Homo sapiens: one gene and its partner. The protein of the gene in region 2 interacts with the protein of the main gene of each other region in a pairwise test. Each region holds a gene or a part of one and is shown on either strand. Other genes may lie near its edges.

Evidence for each region.
Region 1: the proteins of PHF24 (region 2) and GNAI3 interact in binary tests that used the Homo sapiens proteins (3 or more experiments, as listed by UniProt).

The regions. Positions count from the first base shown.
Region 1 is NC_000001.11:109,551,336-109,555,155, reverse strand, and holds part of GNAI3 (guanine nucleotide-binding protein G(i) subunit alpha-3), read right to left. Parts: intron 1-3,820. UniProt on the Homo sapiens protein: Heterotrimeric guanine nucleotide-binding proteins (G proteins) function as transducers downstream of G protein-coupled receptors (GPCRs) in numerous signaling cascades.
Region 2 is NC_000009.12:34,975,094-34,978,913, reverse strand, and holds part of PHF24 (PHD finger protein 24), read right to left. Parts: intron 2,763-3,820; coding exon 2,684-2,762; intron 2,380-2,683; coding exon 2,174-2,379; intron 1,832-2,173; coding exon 1,671-1,831; intron 1,372-1,670; coding exon of another isoform or gene 1,369-1,371; coding exon 1,273-1,368; intron 900-1,272; coding exon 803-899; 3' UTR 1-802.

The DNA of each region.
Region 1 (3,820 bases), on a different chromosome or scaffold from region 2:
GATGGTGGTACTTTAATGGGAATTGCATTGAATTTGTAGATATGCTTTTGGCAGTATGGTCATTTTCACAATATTGATTCTACCCATCCATGAGCATGGGACGTGTTTCCATTTGTTTGTATCATCTATGATTTCTGTCAGCCGTGTTTTGTAGTTTTCCTTGTAGAGGTGTTTCACCTTCTTGGTCAAGTATATTCCTAAGTATTGTTTGTTTGTTTGTTTTTTGTTTGCAGCTACTGTAAAAGGTTGAGTTCTTGATTTGATTCTCAGCTTGGTTGCTGTTGGTGTATAGGGCTACTGACTTAAATCTAAGACCCAAAACCATAAAAATTCTAGAAGATAACATTGGAAAAACCCTTCTAGCCATTGGCTTAGGCAAAGACTTCACAACCAAGAACCCAAAAGCAAATGCAAAGACAAAAATAAAAATAAATAAATGGGACTCAACTAAACTAAAAAGCTTCTGAGCAACAAAAGAAATCAGCAGAGTACAGACAACCCAGAGTGGGAGAAAATCTTCACAATCTATACATCTGACAAAGGACTAATATCCAGAATCTACAAGGAAATCAAATCAGCACGAAAAAAACAATCCCATCAAAAAGTGGGCTAAGGACTTGAATAGACAATTCTCACAAGATATACAAATGGCCAGCAAACTTACGAAAACATGCTCAACATCACTAATTATCAGGAACTACAAATCAAAACTACAATGTGATACCACCTTACTCCTGCAATAATGGCCATAATAAAAAAAAAATAGATGTTGGTGTGGATGTGATGAAAAGGGAACACCTTCACGCTGTTGGTGGGAATGTAAACTAGTACAACCACTATGGGAAACAGTGTGTAGGTTCCTTAAAGAACTAAAAGTATATCTACCATTTGATGCACCAATCTCACTCCTGAGTATCTACCCTGAGGAAAGAAGCCATTATACAAAAAAGATACTTGCATACGCATGTTTATAGCAGCACAATTCACAATGGCAAAAATATGGAACCAGCCCAAATGCCCATCAATCAACGAGTGGATAAAGAAAATGTGATATACACACACACACACACACACACCCCTCTACACCCATGGAACACTACTCAGCCATAAAAAGGAATGAAATAATGGCATCTGCAGCAACCTGGATGGAACTGGAGACGATTACTCTAAGTGAAGTAACTCAGGAATGGAAAACCAAACATCGTACGTTCTCACTTGTAAGTGGATGCTAAGCTATGAGGATGCAAAGGCCTAAGAATGATACAACGGACTTTGGGGACTCGGGGGAAAGGGTGGGAAGGTGGTGAGGGATAAAGGACTATACATTGGGTACAGTGTAGACTGCTCAGGTGATGGGTGCACCAAAATCTCAGAAATTGCCACTAAACTTATTCACGTAACCAAACATAACCTGTTCCCCAAAAACCTATTGAAATGTTAAAAAAGTGACTAATGCATTTAAATAAAAGACACAAAGAATGATACATGCTTATAAAACACAAAGCTTTTTTTCCCCGAAACACAGATGCATCCTCACATGAAATGTAACTGGCCATGAACCTTATCCCAAGCAAATGGCAAACATAATAAAGGGTATAATCCCATAGGAGGATATAATGTAATGGCATGTTTACCAAAGGGCAGTCTTATTCTCAATAATAAGCATATTCAGCCAATAATATGCAGCAATTTAAATATAATTAACTGTATAATATAGAGTTTAAGTAAATTAGATGATTCCAGTTCTCTGCATGCAACTGGCTTTTTGCCATACTACCACCAGCAAATCCCAAAGAACAAAGTTTTTTTTTATGTTTTCTCAGAACCTGCTAAAGGAAACTATCAAGAAACAGAAATACAGAGAGCAGATAATTCAATAATTTACAAAACTAAGTATCTTCATTAGTACAGTGATGAGTAAAAAAAAAGGACTAACATTTAATTCCTTTCACCACAAAAGGATATTAAAATTCTTTGAAGATCTTTGAAAATAGTATATTAATATGAAAAATAATAAAACAGCTGTCTGAAAAACCTCTGAAAAAAGTAGCTAAAATGGTAATTCTCACGATCATCATCATCAATAGAAGTGACCACTTACTATTTTTTATTTGCTAGGCACTAATGTGAAGCATTTTACATGCATTATCTCATTTCATATTATGAAACATCATCTCTGCTTTACATATGTAAAAATTATTATTCTTATGGTTAAGTTACTTGCTCTGGGTCTCAGAGCTAATAAGTGGAGGTAGAACTTAAATTCAGTTTTGTGTGAATCCAAAAGCAGTGCTCTTATCCATTATACCAGTGCTTCCCAACCTTTGTCACATGATGGCACACATTAAAAATATTTGTAAGGCTCATTGGGGTGAGCTGAAAGAGCTTGGTGAAAAAAAATTTTCTTGCTTGCCCTGGGGTCAAAAAAAAACAAAAACAAAACCCGCACACACAAAATTTCTTATTATGAAATTATGGCATGAAAAAAATACAAAGTATTACAAATGATATTAAATATTAAATTGGTATAAATTTAGTATTTATACCAAATAAAATTTTTTCAAATTACCAAATTCATGGTAGGGTAGGCACAGTGGCTCACACTGGTAATCCCAGCACTTTGGGAGGCTGAGATGGGAGAATCACATGAGGCCAAGCATTTGAGACCAGCCTGGGCAACATAATGAGACCCCCATCTCTAATTGTTTAAATAGTAAATAACCAAATTACCAAATTCATGAATTATACAAGAGGAAATCATACCAAAGATGTTCAAATGTAATTTCAACTGTTGTAAAAGTTTGAACTTATAAAAATGATTTAAAATTTCAATGCTATAAAAAATTTGTAAACAGCACACCTATATGCCATCCTAAGCACTGGAACATTGGTTGGGAAGCTTTGCATGGTATTTTTTCAATAGAATGTCATAATTAAACACTAATTTGATATACCAAGATCTTCCCAAGAACACTTTATTTTTTTTTTTTTTGAGACAAAGAGTCTCACTTTGTCACCCAGGCTAGAGTGCAGTGGCGTCATCTCTGCTCACTGCAACCTCCACCTCCCGGGTTCAAGCGATTCTCCTGCCTCAGCCTCCCAAGTAGCTGGGACTACAGGTGCACACCACCACGCCCGGCTAATTTTTGTACTTTTAGTAGAGATGGGGTTTCGCCATGTTGGCCAGGCTGGTCTCGAACTCCTGACCTCAGGTGATCCACCAGCCTCGGCCTCCCAAAGTGATGGGATTACAGCCAGGAGCCACCACGCCCAGCCCTTTCCAAGAACATCTAAATGAAATTCAAACCAAAGGTTATCAAAGGAAGAATTACAATACTGAAGTGTCTGTAAATAATCTGGCCCACACTAGCTGCTTAATTTGGTATAATTTCCATAATACCTACAATCTGTAACATTCATTTTGACTTAATAAGAATAGCTAATCTTCATGGAGCTAGTACTATGTGCCAAGCTGTGTTCTGCTTTACATTATTACCATATTTAATCCTCACAGCAATCCTAGGAGTAGCTCTATTTTCTCCATTTTAAAGATAAGAAAACTGAGGCCAAGAGAAATTAACTTTCCCAAGGCTATAACTAGTAAATGGGAATTAGGATTTAAAGCAGTCTGACTTCAGGACCCATGCTATTAATCACCATGTTAAACTACACCCCCATAAGAAAGAAAATATATCATGTGTCAGGAGACACAGGGTAAGTAGATAGATCTCAACTTAAACTAAGTTCCATAGTGATAAAGTAAAAATGACTTGCATCTACAGCAAAGGAGACATTATCCAGGAAAAAGAAAACTGTATAC
Region 2 (3,820 bases):
CTTGATTTTTGACTACCCTGCTAAAGACTTTTGGACTCAGGTGACCTGACTGAGAGGTTCCTAGAATCCCGAGTCCCTGGGAAGGGCTGCCTCCCCCTCTTCCAGTCAGGATTCTCCAGGCTAGTTGCCTTTTCTGTCACCAGGAATTGGAATTTAAATAAATAAAGGGCTGAATTTCAGTGGTGATGTTTAACTCTTTTCCCAACTCAGTACAGCCGAGGTACATAATGCACACCTACTAGTAACAGCAGCTGACTGCAGAAGGGATTTTTGGTGGAGAAAGCGGGGCCCATTAGGATCTCCAGGAGCTCTAGGCAGGCATGCGAGTCTGACATGCCCCCTTCCTAAGAATCACTTGGCCAGAGACTTATCTATTGGAAATTAGAACTGGCCTGCCTATAGAAGGGGTGAGTAGAGACCCCCTCCTCTATACCAGGGGCTTCACAAAGGGACTTTGGTCCTTTCTCAACCAAAAAGAACCAGGCTTCTGAAGGCATGGACAGCTGGGCAGCATGTGCACATGTATATAAGTGTGGTGGCAGGTCCCGTCTATGATGTGGGGCAGGGGCGGTCCAGGAGAGGATGCTGCCACAGCTCCCAGGGCTTCTCCTTGTGGCAATGCATTCACTGCCTCTATTGTGAGGGGAATGGTGATTTCAGTGCCTTAAAGCTTAGTGACAAGTTAAGACGCTGGCAGTGTCCCAACCCCATGAGTCTCTGTGCCAGAGGTTGGTGGGGGAAGGGAGAAAGGAAAGGAGGGAGAGGATGTCACTGTCCTCAAACCGAGCTTCTCTGCTCCATGCTATCCTGGGGGCTTCAGGTGAATGGCTGCGCTGTTGGGGCGAGCAGCCAGGATGTAGAGGACATTCTCTTGCAGGAAGGTAGGCCAGTCCACAAATCTGGAGTGGAAGCAAAGAACAGAGTCGTGAGGCTGGTTTGAAGACACGTGAGCCCTGATCCCAGGGGCAGCATGGCTTGAGGAGGCTGGTTTGAAGACGCGTGAGCCCTGATCCCAGGGGCAGCATGGCTTGAGCTACACAAAACTCAGGGAAGCTTGGCTCATGCCTGACCTGGCTATGGCTGGCTGTGCTACCAGGCCAACAGACCAGCTGGCTGGTCCTATAGACTTGGGTCAAATGTGCACTCTTGGAGCCTGGTTTCTTGGGTGGGCGCTTGCTGTTTTGGAGTGGGAGTGGGTAATGCCCTCTCTTACTTGTGTGTTTTGTGGGGGTTCAGAGGGTACAAATGGCCAGGTGAGGAGGTCCTACTCACCTGGACTCCTGCTCTGTGGGCAGCAGGGTCTTGTCCTGACTCTTGCTGCTGCTGCTGGCTGGGCTGCTATCTGCGATGGGACCCACATGGCTGATGCTGCTGGGCATGAGGACACGTGGTTAGGAGTGGGATAGTGAAATGCCTGCCCCCTCCCAAACTCTGGTAAGCCCAAGGCTCTGGACATGCTCATCCAGGCTCTTCTGACATGTGGCAACACCGAGTTGAAGGCAGAGGCTGTCCTATGCCCTGGCCCGTAGGCATCACCATCCTCTACCTAATGCACAGGAGGCTCCTCTCTCGGCTGTTGGCAGGGGGAGCAGGGAGGTATGGAAGGGCCACTGGCATGGAAAAGGGAGGAGGAGAGGCTGAGTGGGGACCAGGACTGGTAAGGAGCAGACCTGACACTGCAGGAAGGAGCCTCTGGGAACCGTTTGCAAAACCAAGAGTGCTGGGCCCGGCGGCACTCTGCCTCACTGACGGTGCTCCCACTGCCCCGAGCCAGGAAGGCGGCTCGGGCTCGCTCCCGCTCCTTCACTGTCAGAAGCCTCAACAGAGAGTTCTGGGGAAGAAGAGACAAGATCTTAGAGGTGAAGATATCTTGTAAACTGCCAAGCCATAGAGAATCCTATCTCCATTACCACCTTTGCAACCTCCCTTAGAAGCTGCCCAGAGCCCTTCTGGAGGCATCAGCACTTCCAGTGCGGCCCAGGGCAGATCAGTCTTCCTCACGCAGTTTCCTCAGCCTGGGCACCAGATCATCTGTCACTGGATGGAACCTGAGCCCATTCCTGATACTTGTCCCTGCTTGAGCAGGACCCAGTGCTCCCCCAATCTGCCCAGCGTGCCTCCCAGGCCCTTGTCACCCAGTATCCCAGGAACATTTGCCCCAACTGGCCCTCACCTGGGGACGCAACTGCTGCAGAAGCAGGAGGGACTCATGGGACAAGAAGTCAGGCCACTCTATGTGGCCTCGATGTTCAGGGTCCAGGGCAGCAAACTGGCGGGCCGCCTGCTCTTCTTGCTCCTCACTCAGGGCCCTGTCACGGTCCCCCCGCTTGGCTGCTTGGTGGCGGTAACGCAGAAAGTCCTCCAGTGTCAGGGAGCAATCTGTGGGAGGCACCCCGTGCTAGCCATGCCCATCCTTCCTCAGCCTCAGGGCACCTCCATCACCTCCAGGGCACCCTCGGGGCCCCCAAACCCACAGCTCTTGCTAAGTCTCTGCCTCCCATGGCCAGGGTCACCCAGGCTGTGACAGGGATAGGTGACTCTGCTGGCCAACAACTCAGGAACAAGGACTCATTTACCCTCTACCCACTAAATATGGAACACTCCTTTCATGGTTCATTCTAGAAAGCCTGAAGGAGAAATCTGCCCGGCCCCTCTCCATCCATGCAGCACCACCCAACCTTACCAGGGATGACTTTACACCGCTGAAAGGTCTCCGTGAGGCTATACATTTCCTCCTCAGTAAGCAGCAAGTTGATGTTGTCCTGAAAATAAGGAAGAGCTGAGTCGGTGGCCATACAGGCCAGTAAGAAAGGCCAGGGTCAAGGGGGCTAGAAATAGAATTTCAACTGGAAAGCAGTTCCAAGATCATCTAATCCCAGCCTCCTATTCACAATCAATGAGATTGAGGCCCCAGAGAGGAGAAAGGACTTGGCCAGAGTTGTCTTTACTCTGGGGCAGAATCTTCCCCAAGAACCCAGATATCCTGACTCCAGCACTGAGTCCCTTTACTAAAACAGTGGTTTTCTCCTCTGAGCTAACCTAGGGATTTCTTGGAAGTGCCTTAGGAAGCTGCTGCAGGGAATAAGGGGGCTAGTGAGTAGGCAGGTTGTGAATCCCTATCTCCATCAAGCAGAGCGGCTCCATCTCCATCCCTTTTATCTACTTGGCTTCTGTGTTAGGCTGTGCTAAAAATGTATTTTAGTTAAAAAAAAAAAAAGTTTAATCCTAGCTCTGCTCCAAGTGGGTTGTATCACTTTAAATAACCCCAGAATGGTTTTAAAAGATGCCATTATTACAAGGCTCCTAAAGCCAAATGAGTTTTTTTGTAGTGCCACAGAAGTTTTAATTCCAAAGGAGCACCAATATCTTATTGTGTTGACGTTACCATACAGTCTTTAAACTATCAAAGATCCTTTCTAGTACAAGGTCATTTTCTTCCTCTGAGATACCCGCAAAGTACAAGAGCAGATATTTCATGAGTATTCATACGTGGATTTCATAAAGAACTCAAACCATTCTTTTTCTTCCATAACACTTTTTAAAAACTAATATATAATAGTTGTATTTTTCTTTCAAACCATACTTTCAATAAACACCTACTGAGCACCTAGTAAACACTGGGCGCCACAGTGGTGTGTAACACTGTGAGATGTTCAGTGTGGCTGAGGTTTGGAGTACATGTGAGTGTGTGTGTGAGGGAAGGAGGGGGCCTACTATGAAGTACCTCCAATACCCTTTATCGAGCCCCTCAAATTAGGCCTTTATTCTGAGGGCAAAAGGGAGCCACCAAAGGGTTTTCAAGTGGGGAGTGCCGTGGTCA